4 linked regions of the Homo sapiens genome follow. The protein of the gene in region 3 purifies or fractionates together with the protein of the main gene of each other region. This does not show direct contact. Each region holds a gene or a part of one and is shown on either strand. Other genes may lie near its edges.

What was found. Proteins that work in one complex are often made in the same cells at the same time.
Region 1: the proteins of PTP4A2 (region 3) and EFL1 purify together in Homo sapiens (affinity purification with mass spectrometry; 2 studies listed by BioGRID and IntAct, with this or other methods). This does not show direct contact.
Region 2: the proteins of PTP4A2 (region 3) and CNNM2 purify together in Homo sapiens (affinity purification with mass spectrometry; 5 studies listed by BioGRID and IntAct, with this or other methods). This does not show direct contact.
Region 4: the proteins of PTP4A2 (region 3) and PRDX4 purify together in Homo sapiens (affinity purification with mass spectrometry, with the first as the bait; one large-scale study listed by BioGRID). This does not show direct contact.

What each region holds. Positions count from the first base shown.
Region 1 is NC_000015.10:82,256,235-82,259,734, reverse strand, and holds part of EFL1 (elongation factor-like GTPase 1), read left to right. Parts: intron 1-579; coding exon 580-647; intron 648-3,500. UniProt on the Homo sapiens protein: GTPase involved in the biogenesis of the 60S ribosomal subunit and translational activation of ribosomes.
Region 2 is NC_000010.11:102,916,864-102,921,093, forward strand, and holds the start of CNNM2 (metal transporter CNNM2), read left to right. Parts: upstream 1-1,430; 5' UTR 1,431-1,617; coding exon 1,618-3,238; intron 3,239-4,230.
Region 3 is NC_000001.11:31,928,369-31,931,868, reverse strand, and holds part of PTP4A2 (protein tyrosine phosphatase type IVA 2), read left to right. Parts: intron 1-726; exon of another isoform or gene 727-936; intron 937-3,500.
Region 4 is NC_000023.11:23,670,493-23,673,992, forward strand, and holds part of PRDX4 (peroxiredoxin-4 precursor), read left to right. Parts: intron 1-1,036; coding exon 1,037-1,154; intron 1,155-3,500. UniProt on the Homo sapiens protein: Thiol-specific peroxidase that catalyzes the reduction of hydrogen peroxide and organic hydroperoxides to water and alcohols, respectively.

The sequences.
Region 1 (3,500 bases), on a different chromosome or scaffold from region 3:
TTACACAGAATCACCTGTTTATATCACATAAAATCTCATAGACTTTAGTTGTATGTAGTCTGCTTAATAAAAGTAACTATAAATATATTCGAAGATTCTTTTGCTTTAAAGTAGATTCCTAGGTTTAGATTTGGATACTAGGTTTCATTGGTTGTTACAGTATGTTTATGCCCTCCACATGCTATATTACAAACAGTAAGAGATATGGATAATGTTCCTGAATTTCTTTGATAAGTAAGTATTTTCTTAAGACAGTTTAGCAAATTCCAGCTGAGGCCATGCATGGGGAAATATGGCAAAAGAGTATGTTCTCTAAAGTTACTTGACAACTTTTCAGATGAGGTTGAGTAGATCCACAGGGTTGGAGATAAGATTACAGCATTATAGAGTGCTAGCCTCTGTGTCCTTCCAGATGATATTCTGTTCAAAAGTCTAATAAATCTCTTTTGTCACCTAGCATAGGTAAATAGAAAATCTTTACTAAACCAATTCTTATGACCAGATTTTAAATCTATAGGTATGATCCATGACCCCTTTTAAAAAAGATATAGATTTGAATTGATGTTGCTATTTTAACAGGAAAAACTACTCTGGCTGACTGTCTTATATCTAGCAATGGAATCATCTCCAGCCGCCTAGCAGGCAAGGTATGTTATTATTTTATAAATACTTGTTGCATTTCAGTATTAGCTATCAACAATGTGATGAACCATTTTCTGTGTTCTTCAGCCATCCAAAAGGGTATAAAACATAATTCTTGCGTCTAAAAGCTGCCAATCCATTTTGCAAGATAAAAATGCTGAGGAGAAAAATAGTTACTTCTGTATTGCTTTGTATTGCTTTATCCTAAGTGCAAAAGTGAGTTTTTGCAGCAAGCAAATGATACACCATTGTGGAAGATTTCACAGCGCAAGAGATTCTTTGTAGGTGAATGAGTTGAGTGGTTTGAGGAGAAGACAGAAAAGCTACCAGGTAGTGGGAAATAAGACGGATAAAGGCTAATTTGTGTGTTGTGCTCTATTTGAGTGGAGTGTTTGCCTAGAGACTAGTGACAGAGAAAACATACTGGCAGGGAGAATAAGATTATAGAAGACCTTAAAAGTTAACCTAAGTATCAAAGGAAAGCTGCTTGTGCCTGAGGATTGTGATGAAAATAGTGGGTTTTTTGGTTTTTGTTTTTGAGACAGGATCTCACTCTGTTGCCCAGGCTAGAGTGCAGTGGTGTGATCATGCACGGCTCACTGCAACCTCGCCCTGTTGGGCTCAGGTGATCCTCCCACCTCAGCCTCTTGGGTACCTGGGACTACAGGTGCACACCACCACACCTGGCTAATTTTTTGTAGAGACAGGGTTTTGCCATGTTCCCTAGGCTGATCTTGAACTCCTGGGCTCAAGCAATCCTCCTGCCTTGACTTCCCAAAGTGCTGGAATTACAGGTGTGAGTCACCACACCTAGCCTGAAAATAGCGTTTGAGGAAATAAAATTAAAGAGATCTTTATTTGTAGCTATGAGTTGAAAGGGCTTGGAATAATTTACTTGGCAGTAGAAAAATAAAGATATATTCGTTTCCATAATGAATTTAGGATATGATCAATAGGGTTTATCAGGTGACAGAGAATAGAGAGAAGAGGAGACGGAGAAGCAAAATTGAATCCACAGGGTAGACCCAATAGACTTGAAGATCGATTTGGGAATTGATGTGTGGGTTGGGAGGGAAGCTGGCCCAAGATACTATCTAGAGGAGGCTGAAGAAAACTAGGTTGAGTGAAATAATGAAATGCTTATATTTTCCCCACTTGAGAATTTAGAGAAAGTACAAAACTGAAGTAAGTAGATGAAAGGAAATAGTAAAGCATAAATTAATGAAATAGTAAACAGACATTTTATAGAAAGGATCAGTGAAGCCAGAAGTTTGTTTTTGGAAAAGATTAACCCAGCTAACAAATACAAAGAGTGAACCCTAATGTAAACTATGGACTTTAATTAATCATAATGCATCAATATTGGTTCATCAGTTGTAACAAAGGTATCACACCATATGCTAATACAAGATAGATATAATAGGGGAAACTGTGTGGGTGGGAGGAGAGAGTATGTGGGAACCTTCAGTCAATTTTTCTGTAAACTTAAAGGTGCTCTAAAAATATAAAGTTATTAATTTAAACAATTACTAGCAATATAGACAATTTTTGATTCTCTTGACTAGGAAACTTTTTTGTTTTGTTTTTCATTGACATTGTTGAGGAACATTTGACACTTTTGACCTGGTAATGTTCCTAATGTGGCTCACTGTACTTTGGACATATAGAAAGCATAGTATATATAAATAAATATTTTTGAATGAATGACTTTAAAGAAGAGTAACACAACTGACAAAACACCAGCAAGATGATCAAGAAGAAAAGAGAGGAGGCAGAAATATGTGATACCCAGAAAGAAAAATGCTGCAGAAGTTAATAAGGTAATAATAGGATATAATGAACAACTCTGTGCCAGTAAACTTAAAAGTGCTAAAATGGAAAAATGTCTGGAAAACATAACTTGCTAAAATGGAGTCAAGAAGAAATAGGAAACTTGAATTATTCTATAGTCATTTAAGAAATTGAATTGGCTGGCAAAAATCTTTCCATAAAGTAAAGACCCAGATGGTTTAACTCTCTAGTTCTGCCAAACATTCAAAGAATAATTTCAGTCCTACTTAAACCATTTCAAAATATAGCAGAGAAAAACCCAACAATCGGCAGTATTCTCCAAATCATATGAAGATAGCATAACTTTGATACCAAAAGTCTGTTAAGGATAGTACAATATAGGAGAATTATATACCAACCTTATGATTATGGATGCAAAAATTATCATCCTCATTAACAAACAATTCAGCATAGTATAAAAAGATGATTATTCATATCCAAATCGAGTTTATCCCAAGGAATTCAAGATTGGTTTAACATGTAATTTCACTATATTAATGGATTAAAGGAAGAAAATCATGATCATTTCAACAGATATAAAGACATGTAGTAAAATTCAACATCTATTGTGATAAAACCTCTTTGCAATGTAGTTACAGAAGAGAACTTCTGTAATCTGATGTGGGATATTTATAAAAAACCTAAAATGAAGATTGAACTTAATGATGAAGTGTTAAAACTTCTCTATTCATAGCCAGGAATAAGGCAAGAATGGCTGTCACACCCTTCTGCTCATTGTGTTATAACTTCTACTTTAGATTGTACTGGAGGTTCTAGTTGCAGTGATAAAGCTGGAAAGAAAAATAAAAAGTGTGAATTTTGGAAAGGAAGAAAACAAAAATGTAGATAAATTGCTAGGATATTAGTAACAATTTGGCAGGTTTCAGGATACGAAAACTGTTGAAAAGAAGTATACGTGAGCAATAAATAGGTAATATACAGTAATTTAAAAACGTAAACCATTTAAATAGCATAATAAATGTACCTGTGCCGGGCATGGTGGCTCATGCCTGTAATCCCAGCTACTT
Region 2 (4,230 bases), on a different chromosome or scaffold from region 3:
ATGTTTTAAGTTTCTTTTTTTTCTTTTTTTTTTTTTGATACGGAGTCTCCCTGTGTCACCCAGGCTGGAGTGCAGTGGCGCGATCTCGGCTCACTGCAAGCTCCGCCTCCCGGGTTCACGCCATTCTCCTGCCTCAGCCTCTCCGAGTAGCTGGGACTACAGGCGCCCGCCACCATGCCCGGTTAATTTTTTGTATTTTTAGTAGAGACGGGGTTTCACCGTGGTCTACGATCTCCTGACCTCATGCTCCGCCCGCCTCGGCCTCCCAAAGTACTGGGATTACAAGCGTGAGCCACCAACGCCCGGCCTGAATGTTTTAAGTTTCAAGGAAAAGACCAATTTGGCAGCTACTCTGCTACCTCGTCACCTCCAGGTGACGTTGGGAGTACTGGGGAGCTAGGTTTCCAGAACTTTTTGCTCTTGAGTGACCTAAGACCCTAGCAGAGTTTGGTCAGTGTGATTAAGAATGAGCCTCTGTGGGTCTGTTTAGGATGCTTGCCCCCTCCCATTTCCTTAACTTGCCTGAATTCCTGCTGGGAATACAGATTCGGGGCCCTTCCCACTCTGTAAATATGGGAAAAGGTCTAGGAAGTATATACTCCTAGCAATAATATGTAGGGGTTCTATGACTAGGAAATTTGGGGAACTGTCCCCCTGACCGCTCCATCCGTAACTTCTGCACACCTTTTGGGGTACGCCGCCGACCTGGAAAGCGTTGCAGGGCGCTCATGCTGCCCGCAGGTGGCGCCACGTGATCGCGAGCCGCAGAGAGCCCGTACCCTAGGAGTCTCGAGGCGCGAGGACTGCTGGTCCGCAGCTGTGCCGGGGCCACCGACGCCGCTTACCCCGGCGGAGCGCCGCGCAGGTGGAGTTGGGGACAGCGGCCGGTGCCCCGGCTTTTTAGGCTGTGTGCATCCCAAGCCGCCTCTAGTTGGCTTCTCGGGCTTCCGGGGCAGGAGGGCGCGCGGCTTTGTGCCTACGAATTGAGAACTGGAGAGCCAGTAACCGGTGCACCGGGAACCTGCCGCCTTGCGCCGCAGGGCTTTAGTCCAAACCTGGCCGGTCCAGGCTCCGGGATCTACTACAGGGGCCCCTGGGGAGCGCGGGCCCCAGGGACGGCTCCTTCCCATTGGCAGCAGGACGGATGCCACGCCCCTTTTTCTTCAGCTCTCATCTTTGACTGGCTCTCGAGTCCCAGATGGCCACGCCCCCTCCCCTCGCACATACACAAGAGTCACGCGCCTTTCAGTTGGAAACTTGGCGTGCAGACGGGGACGGTGGCTCTCGTCGCCCCACCCACTTACCTTGCCATTGGTCCGCGGAGCGGCACACGGTCACGCCCCCATTCCAGCCCCCTGGCTGGGAGGGCGGGCACCCGCTTGTGATTGGCTGGTCGGCCTGCCTCTCGCGGGAGCAGCCGGCGCTCCTCTCCCTCCCTCTTTCCCTCCCGCGAGCCTCGGGGTTCCTCAGCTGGCTGAGGTGGAGTCAGTGTCAGTCAGGGAGGCGAACTGCTGAGCACTGGCCGCGGACGCTCCGTTGCAGTCTCGCCCAGGGGCCGGTACCTGCGCTCGCGCCGCCGGGTTGAAAGGATGAAGCCGCAGCTGGAGCAGCCACCCTATGATTGGCTGTGGCGCTTGTGAACCCAAAGTAAAGATGGCGGGCGGGCAGGCAGCCGCCGCACTGCCCACTTGGAAGATGGCGGCGCGCCGCAGCCTCAGCGCTCGCGGCCGGGGGATCCTGCAGGCGGCTGCGGGGCGGCTGCTGCCGCTGCTCCTGCTGAGCTGCTGCTGCGGTGCGGGCGGCTGCGCAGCGGTGGGCGAGAATGAGGAGACGGTGATCATCGGGCTGCGACTGGAGGACACGAACGACGTGTCGTTCATGGAAGGGGGGGCGCTGCGGGTGAGCGAACGGACCCGGGTCAAGCTGCGGGTGTACGGGCAGAACATCAATAACGAGACGTGGTCCCGCATCGCCTTCACCGAGCACGAGCGGCGGCGCCACAGCCCGGGGGAGCGCGGGCTGGGGGGCCCCGCGCCGCCAGAGCCGGACAGCGGCCCCCAGCGATGCGGCATCCGCACCTCAGACATCATCATCTTGCCCCACATCATTCTCAACCGCCGCACCTCGGGCATCATCGAGATCGAGATCAAACCGCTACGCAAGATGGAGAAGAGCAAGTCCTATTACCTGTGCACGTCGCTCTCCACGCCCGCCCTGGGCGCCGGCGGCTCGGGGTCCACGGGTGGCGCCGTCGGGGGCAAGGGTGGCTCGGGGGTGGCCGGGCTCCCGCCGCCCCCGTGGGCCGAGACCACCTGGATTTACCACGACGGCGAGGACACCAAGATGATCGTAGGCGAAGAGAAGAAGTTCCTGCTGCCCTTCTGGCTGCAGGTGATCTTCATTTCGCTGCTGCTGTGCCTGTCGGGCATGTTCAGCGGCCTCAACCTGGGGCTCATGGCCCTGGACCCGATGGAGCTGCGCATCGTGCAGAACTGCGGCACGGAGAAGGAGAAGAATTACGCCAAGCGCATCGAGCCGGTGCGCAGGCAGGGCAACTACCTGCTGTGCTCACTGCTGCTGGGCAACGTGCTGGTCAACACCACGCTCACCATCCTGCTCGACGACATCGCCGGCTCGGGCCTCGTGGCCGTGGTAGTCTCCACCATCGGTATCGTCATCTTCGGAGAGATCGTGCCCCAGGCCATCTGCTCCCGGCATGGCCTGGCTGTGGGGGCCAACACCATCTTCCTCACCAAGTTTTTCATGATGATGACCTTCCCCGCTTCCTACCCGGTCAGCAAGCTGCTGGACTGCGTCCTGGGCCAGGAGATAGGCACCGTCTATAACCGGGAAAAACTGCTGGAGATGCTCCGGGTCACCGATCCCTACAACGACCTCGTTAAGGAGGAGCTGAACATCATCCAAGGGGCGCTGGAGCTCCGCACCAAGACGGTGGAGGACGTGATGACCCCACTCCGGGACTGCTTCATGATCACCGGCGAAGCCATCCTGGACTTCAACACCATGTCTGAGATCATGGAGAGCGGCTACACCCGCATTCCAGTGTTTGAAGGGGAGCGCTCCAATATCGTGGACCTGCTGTTTGTCAAAGACTTGGCCTTCGTGGATCCCGATGACTGTACCCCCCTGAAAACCATCACCAAATTTTATAACCACCCCTTGCACTTTGTTTTCAATGACACCAAGTTGGACGCTATGCTGGAAGAATTTAAGAAAGGTGGGAAATTTTGGTCTCTTTCATTGGCTTGCTCTTTCTCTCTCCATCCTCCTCCCTACTTGAGTCCTCTACCCTCAGACCAACCCCCCAAGGCGAGTTGACCGGGATTTCTCCTTCTCCCTCTTAATTGCAAAGTTGAAAGGGTGGCGTGGATTTGGGGATGGATTGAACTAGTAAGTGCTACTAGGTTATTTTAAAGCACAAGACTGCCATCACTTACTTTTTCCCATTATCAAAAAGCAGGCTGTGTAATTTCTGTGCATGACACTTATTTATTTTTTTTTTTTTGGTCCCGTGTGTGGGCCTCTGTTCTTGAGGGGTCTGCCGCCTTCATTGTCTGGGTTCTCAGTGAGTAGGTGAAGGTAGGGGCTGGCTGATGCCATGCCATTTGGTGGACTTTAATCACAGGCATTTGGAAAACATGTAACTAGCTTTTGTAAACCCAGTGCAGTCCTTTTTCTCCTCCTTAAACATCCACACTGGCCTTTCAAAGATCGAAGTACATTTTCTATAGCTTCTGTTCCTGCTTGCCTGGCAACTTGTGGGGAAGATTGAGGTCTGCCTTTGAGGGTAAGGGGTGGGGTAAACTAAGTATCGCCAAAAAAAATCACCCATTTTGGATGTGACTTCTCTTAGCTAGAAAAGAGTTGTTGTTGTTGTTTTAAATTAAAGTTATTAATATGTAACTTGGAAAGATTAGAGGTTAGCCAGCCTTTTGTGAAGAGGCTGTATGTCCCGTAGCCTTCTTCACTATTTGTTTACATTTATCTGACAACAGTTACAGTTGCCCAAACCAAGTGTGATTTTGGCAGAAAGCTTGAACCTTTAACAGTGGGATGAATCCCTCTATTGGGGCTTATTTATTTCTTGACTCTTTCAGTTTAACGTGTTCTTTTTTTCCACCTTGATCATCCGATACATTAAGTTGAAGTATGTCTCCGTCAACTCTCACCGTTCCAAGATGCTTATACAGTACATCATTTATATTTGTT
Region 3 (3,500 bases):
GACTGGTTAGTGCAGAAGGATATGAGTCACCAGCAGGATTTGTCAGCAAATAGAGAAGGATATGATGGAGAAACAATAGATTCTAGTGACATTATTTTCATTCCACATGTGTGGTTACAAACAAGTTTCCTTTGGTGATTAGTTTAAATTATGCAAATTGGGTCTTTCTGGGTGAAAAGTACTTTAAATATAAGTCACAGGCTATATTCTCAATTGTTTTCTTAGATTGGATCTTCATTTGGAGGTCATCAACAGGTAGAATTTAGTTAAACTCGTTATCTGTTGACTATGATTTAGTAAGTTGAAAGAAAATTTTTGTTAAGCTTTTTGGTAATTACGGAGCTGCTTGCTCAGTAGATCAGGGGAGGCCCATAAATATGGCAATATTTGCTCTTTTTCTCAGTGAGCAAAGAGTTGCTCTCTTACCACTACTCTGCTTTGAAATTCCTAAGAGCTTTTATTGCATTTGAATTGGTCTGAAATTCTCAGCCCGGTCAAGGCTTCTCCAGAGTTATCTAACCAAAGACTAAGCACCTTTCTCAAGTCACACTACCATGGTTCCTTCACTGTTTCTACCAGTTTTCTATTATAAAAGTTTTACCTTTCTTCAGAAGTCTTAATCCTACTCCATTCTTCTCACGCTTACTTTGTATCTTTAAAATTTGTGGTGGTAATATGAAAACTTAATACCAATCAAGCATTTTTCACCCACGTTGATTCTTCTAGGAGCTTGATCCTGGATAGTGTTTGTATGATGTGCACACGTCTCTGCAAATGCTTGTTTGAAGATTGGCTGTGCTGCATTTTGGTATAATTGGGAGGTGACATATTGTCCCTTATCTCAGTAAACATTTGGAGGAAGAGGACGAGAAAGATTGAATTTTGCATTCTTTAATTGGGAAGAAAAGGAAGGTGAATCCATGTTGAGCTGAGCTAGTGAGTAAAGAATAACTTCTTGACATGGCATTATAGAGTTATTTCACCATTTTTATTTCACGTTAATATGTAGTATGAAATATTTACTTTCACTGTGTGGTTTTTAAAGATCGTAATGTTACTGTGTTTTGTGAAAGGATGCCATTATTGGACAATTAGTGGATAGACAGTACATTTTAAAAGGCCACCAGCAGCTTCAAATAGAATGATTTGGATTCTTGACTGTTTATCTTGTATTGTACTCAGTACACAAACATATGTCTGTGAACTATAATGTAATTTATAAAAAGCAAGTTTAGGAGAGGAAGTGAAGTGTAACTTACCCAGTTATAGGGGAAACTTGGATCAGAGTGCCTGAACAGCAGAAACATTTCTGGGGCTCAAACAAAATAATTTATGTTGACAAGATGTATTTTGGGATGTTTTTATTCTGTGTCTTGTCCATAGAGAGTTTCCCTCACTCTCTTTGGGGATTAATACTGGAACAGGACCTTTAAATACGCTCAATACATTTGACAAAATGGGGAAATGAAAAGAGTTAAGTTGACCCATAAACTACTAAGTTCTGAGATATGGTATTTTTTATTTTTTTTTTGAGATGGAGTCTCACTGTCGCCCAGGTTGGAGTGCAGTGGCACAATCTCGGCTCACTGCAGGTTCCGCCCCCCCGGGGTTCACGCCATTCTCCTGCCTCAGCCTCCCTAGTAGCTGGAACTACAGGCGCCCGCCACCTCGCCCGGCTAATTTTTTGTATTTTTAGTAGAGACGGGGTTTCACCGTGTTAGCCAGGATGGTCTCGATCTGCTGACCTCGTGATCCGCCCGCCTTGGCCTCCCAAAGTGCTGGGATTACAGGCGTGAGCCACCACGCCCGGCCCGAGATGGTATATTTTAGGTAATGTGAACAGTAGCCGGAAAGTTTTTGCTTTGCATGCTACTCCTGTGCTGTAGGTTATTTTGAAAGGTGATTCAAATAACCTTTCCCAAGTATCTATTTTGCAACCTCAGGGAACTTGCAGCTGTTACAGCCATTTTAACTGTCCTGATATAGCTCAGAAAACATTTCAATGTGGTGTTGACAGGCTGACTCCAGGTGTTCTTTTGGATTTTTACTACTGAATTTGCTTTATTACAATTGAAGTTCAGAATCTTAAATTATTTATTAATGAAATTATTGATTCAATGGTTCTTGGGTTAATGTACATACAGTGATGTTGGAAACTAAATTAAAATGATTAAGACTTAAATTGTTCTCTGGAAAAATTAGCCTTTTGAGATTAAAGAAGGAAGGATGGGAGGAGGAAATAAAACAAATGTTAGGATTTAACTTTCTGGGGAAGCAACTGAATTGGAGATAGTTCCTATTCTTAAGAAGGTTACCAAAGTTATTTAGGAAAAGAATGTGCTTAAACTTTATAATAAAGGGGCTTGGGAGTCTTAAAATGCACATAAACTGAAGTCTTTAAACATAAACCCCATAGAAAAGATAGCCATGATACTTTTGTCACAAAAGTATGGATGAATAGAATCCATTTAGTAAAACTATTTAATGTAATTTTTAAAAGATTAACTGAAAACAATTAGATTAATACTCAATATAAGGATTGTGCTGTTAGGATTTTTTAATGTTATTACCAGTGCTATTCCAATACTTTTTAAAGAGAAAGTCGGCGTTGGCCATAGTGCTGTTAACCTGCATTTAAATTTTATTTATGAAAGGAAAAATACCAATTTTAGATAAGAGATTCATTTTGAGAATTGGAAATCTTTAGAGGAAAAATGGAGTACAAAATTGTAAAGTAAATATTTTTAAGTGTGGCCTGAAAATATTTAATGCAATTTTTGTCTTATAGTTATTTGTAGAGGTAGAAATTACTAGAAAAGGACAACCGTTAATCACCGGGGTACATGCACATCTAAAACCACTCCCTTTTCATTTTGGTGGGAACAGGGCCCACAGGACTTCAGTGAATAACTGTCACTGTTCTCAGAAGCAGGTGCGATTGTTGACTAATTGCTTCCCTTATCTTTCTGAGTGGCTGGCCATGTATCTTCTACTGGTTTTGAAATGTTAAGACATTTTCCCACCATCAAGGTCATGATTTCTTTTTATAGAACTGATTATTGATTTCTGTACTGGGACTTGAGTCTCAAGTTCCCTCCTTAAATGAGGAAGTGGAAAAGTGGGAATAACCAAGGGAGTAACTATGAAATTTTTTTTTTTTTTTTTTTTTTTTGAGACAGAGTTTCACTCTGTCACCCAGGCTGGAGTACAGTGGCACGATCTTGGCTCACTGCAACTTCCGCCTCCCAGGTTCAAGCAATTCTCCTGCTTCAGCCACCTGAGCTGGGACTACAGCCATGCGCCACAATACCTGGCTAGTTTTTGTATTTTTGGTAGAGACAGGGTTTTGCCATGTTGGCCAGGCTGGTCTTGAACTCCTGACCTCAGGTGATCCGCCCATCTTGGCCTTCCAAAGTGCTGGGATTACAGGCGTAAGCCATCGCGCCCGGCCAAAAAATTTTTTTTAACAGTAAAAAAAGCATCTTATTTTTGGCTTATTC
Region 4 (3,500 bases), on a different chromosome or scaffold from region 3:
CCATAAATGGTGGCTGTTACAGAGAAGTATAAGCCTTACTTTCTAGGACCCTTAGCCAAACTTAGAAGCAAGCATTGACTTCAGTGTTTGTAAGGGGTCTGAAAGTATAAGTGCTATCTGAATGTGTTAACAGAGCATGAAGGTGCATTAGTATCTAAGTGTGTTGGCTAAAATTACTGTACGCCCTTACAAGAGAGCAGCATGAACTGTTCAGTTTCCATTGGGTCACTTGAAACCTGTTCAAGGGAGTCTTCTTTCAAAGCCCTCTAGGAAAATGATCCCATGGTCTGGGATTTTACACTTCTGGCCTGACATATTTGTACATTCCCTCCTCATTTTGTGTAGCCTCATCTGCAGCAGGTCCTCCATGTGTATGTCAGAAGCTGGACAAACTAGTACATCTGGAAGACTGCCATTAGAGAAAGGAAAATCTAATTATTTGAAATGTAGGAAGTTGACAACTTGAAGCGGGACTATAGTGAAGTATCCAGGAGGGTTTAGTGCAGGGTAGAATTTAAGGGGTCTGTGAGCATGAATAGGGGAAAAAAGTATTTATTTTCACTAATCCCCATCTGAAATTTAGTGTTTCCTTCTATTATGAATGTCAGCAACAAACTACACTATCTTCAGCAGCACTTGCTTGTACCTTTCACCAATAGAATCACTTATTTTCTTGCTACATATGGTTATCGCAGGTATCCTGAAACACCATTTTCACTCATCATTATCTTACGTAGTTGTCAGATTACAACTAGATCTTGCAGTTTTGAAGTGTTATAGAGCACATGTATTATGATATCACCAATTTTTTTTAATATTTTTATAATTGCATTTAAATACAATTGGTTTCTTTTGTAATTCTATGTATTTTCCTTTTTGCATTCAATAACACTCTTTTAAGAAGTCTGTAAGCTTCACCAGACTGCCAAAGAGATCTAAAGGTAGCCCTGATTTTTAGTGATTTTCTAAAGATGTCCTTCTACCATTCCACCAACTTTCTCAGTGTTACAGAACATCATGTATTTTATTTTCTTAGTTTCCAAGCCAGCGCCCTACTGGGAAGGAACAGCTGTGATCGATGGAGAATTTAAGGAGCTGAAGTTAACTGATTATCGTGGGAAATACTTGGTTTTCTTCTTCTACCCACTTGATTTGTAAGTAATACATGTAAATAGCTAGTAAAATCTCAGTCTTTATCAATTATTTTTCAGGAGTATCAAACAAATTATTTTGTTCAGCTCTTGGTTTTTAAAAAGGCAAGCTGAAGTAAAGAAATGTATTTAAAAAGGTAACATCTACCATATATTTCAGAGTCATAACACACCGACCTCAATACTTATGTCTACATGATTATGTTATAATGGAATAATTAGAGGAAAGCTACAATATATTCATTAAGCTATACCTACTAAGGCAAGAAAATGGACTGATAATATATTAGAAAGCATTTAATAGCAAGACCTATGCCATAATTCTTTTTACTGTATCTCTCTTGATTAGAAAATTAATTCTGTAATCCCAGCACTTTGGGAGGCCAAGGCAGGTGGATTACAAGGTCAAGAGATCGAGACCATCCTGGCCAACATGGTAAAACCCCATCTCTACTAAAAATGCAAAAATTAGCTGGGCGTGGTGGTACGCGCCTGTAGTCCCAGCTACTCGGGAGGCTGAGGCAGGAGAATTGCTTGAACCCTGGAGGCGGAGGTTGCAGTAAGCTGAGATAGTGCCACTGCACTCCAGCCTGGCGACAGCGAGACTCCATCTCAAAAAGAAAAGAAAAAGAAAATTAAGCCATTTTCTCTAGTGATACCATGTAACTGTGGTTTTTCCATTTTTATTCTTTGCTGCATCTGTTGCTTTTCTGGGATTTGAACATTTTGCTGAAAATATTATATACTGCTTAAGGAATAAGGAATAACACCTGTGTATATGTTATGGTTATTGTGGGGTTTCTCGTCTTTTTTTAACTCTGTGACAGTGAGCGTTTTTGTATATGGTCAGAAAGTTGACTAAAAGTAAATACCCTTACAGCTTTATTCACGTTGAGGATTTAATTTTATTTTACAAAACACTATTTTGAGTGTTTTTCAAAATTCATGAAAGTGAGAAGAGACCAAAAAGAGTTATGTCAATTTTTATCTTTTATTCTCTTGGAACTTACTTTTTGGTTACAACAAATAACTAGAAGTTTCCTCCTCTATCTTTGCCACTGTGCCTTTTTCCATTAGGACTAATCTGGAACTACATAGATCAAATTTAAACTTGCAGGGAGGGTATACTTAAGCTCATTGCTATAGGTTGTTTCTAGGCCAGGGATTAACAAATTTTTTCTGCTGGATTTGGCCTATTGACCTATTTGCCAACCCCTGCTCTAAGCCACAAAGGAAGAATTCTCATGAAAATTATTACATTGAGACTAAAGTTATGAGTCTGCATAATATATAATCTTTTAAATTATAAGAACTTGCTTCTTTCTAATCAACTCATATTGTGACTTGATTTTTTTAAGTATAGCTTAATTTCTAATAGAAACCAGAAGTAGAAATTTCAGTAGACATAAAAAATGACAGGCCTTCTAAATTCATGTTGTTATAAAACCAGAAGGTTAACATGTATGTTAAATATATACGACTAACACCCTGAATTTGGAAGTTAGTCTAATGTAGCAGAAAAATATGTTCTGTGTTTCTCCATTGTTATTCATAACTCCATAATGGGTAAGAGATAGTTAATTGGAGCATGTTGTTAGCAATGGTCTTCTGGGACAAGGAGCTAAGATAGCCTCTTCCTGTTTTCATGTAATGCTGGACTGTGCCTGGTTAGAGAAGGAAGAATTCTGGGGCATTTGCCACAGTCTACAAGGAGGAAAGTTACAAACGTAACCCTTCAGTTTCCTGCCAAAACTTTTTCTGTCTTCACTAAGAAGTTGGTCAAATGTATCTCTAGGTAGCATTCCTTGAAATAAGAAGAAAGGCAGAGGCTGGGTGCAGTGGCTCACGCCTGTAATCCCAGCACTTTGGGAGGCCAACATGGGCGGATCACCTGAGGTCAGGAGTTCTAGACCAGCCTGGCCAACAAGGTGAAACCCCGTCTCTACTGAAAATACAAACAAAATTACCCGGGCGTGGTGGTGGGCGTTTGTAGTCCCAGTTACTCAGCAGGCTGAGGCAGGAGAATTGCTTGAACCCGGGAGGCGGAGGTTGCAGTGAGCTGAGATCGCGCCACTGCACTCCAGCCTGGGTGACAGAGTGAGACCCTGCCACAAAAAAAAAAAAAAAGGAAGGCTGAGGCTGACCATTCCTACCCTTTAGAAAATATTAAAAATACATTTTATAGCCCAGGTTTCCAGGGACATCATCCGAGATTAGAACTGTCTACTTGGACATGACAGTGCTGTACCTGAATACCTGAAACATGTTAAAATCCTGTATTGGTATCTGGTAGGAACTTGTGCCCTAACTAAGTCTATGTTTTTCAAACTTTCTTGACCATGTCTCACA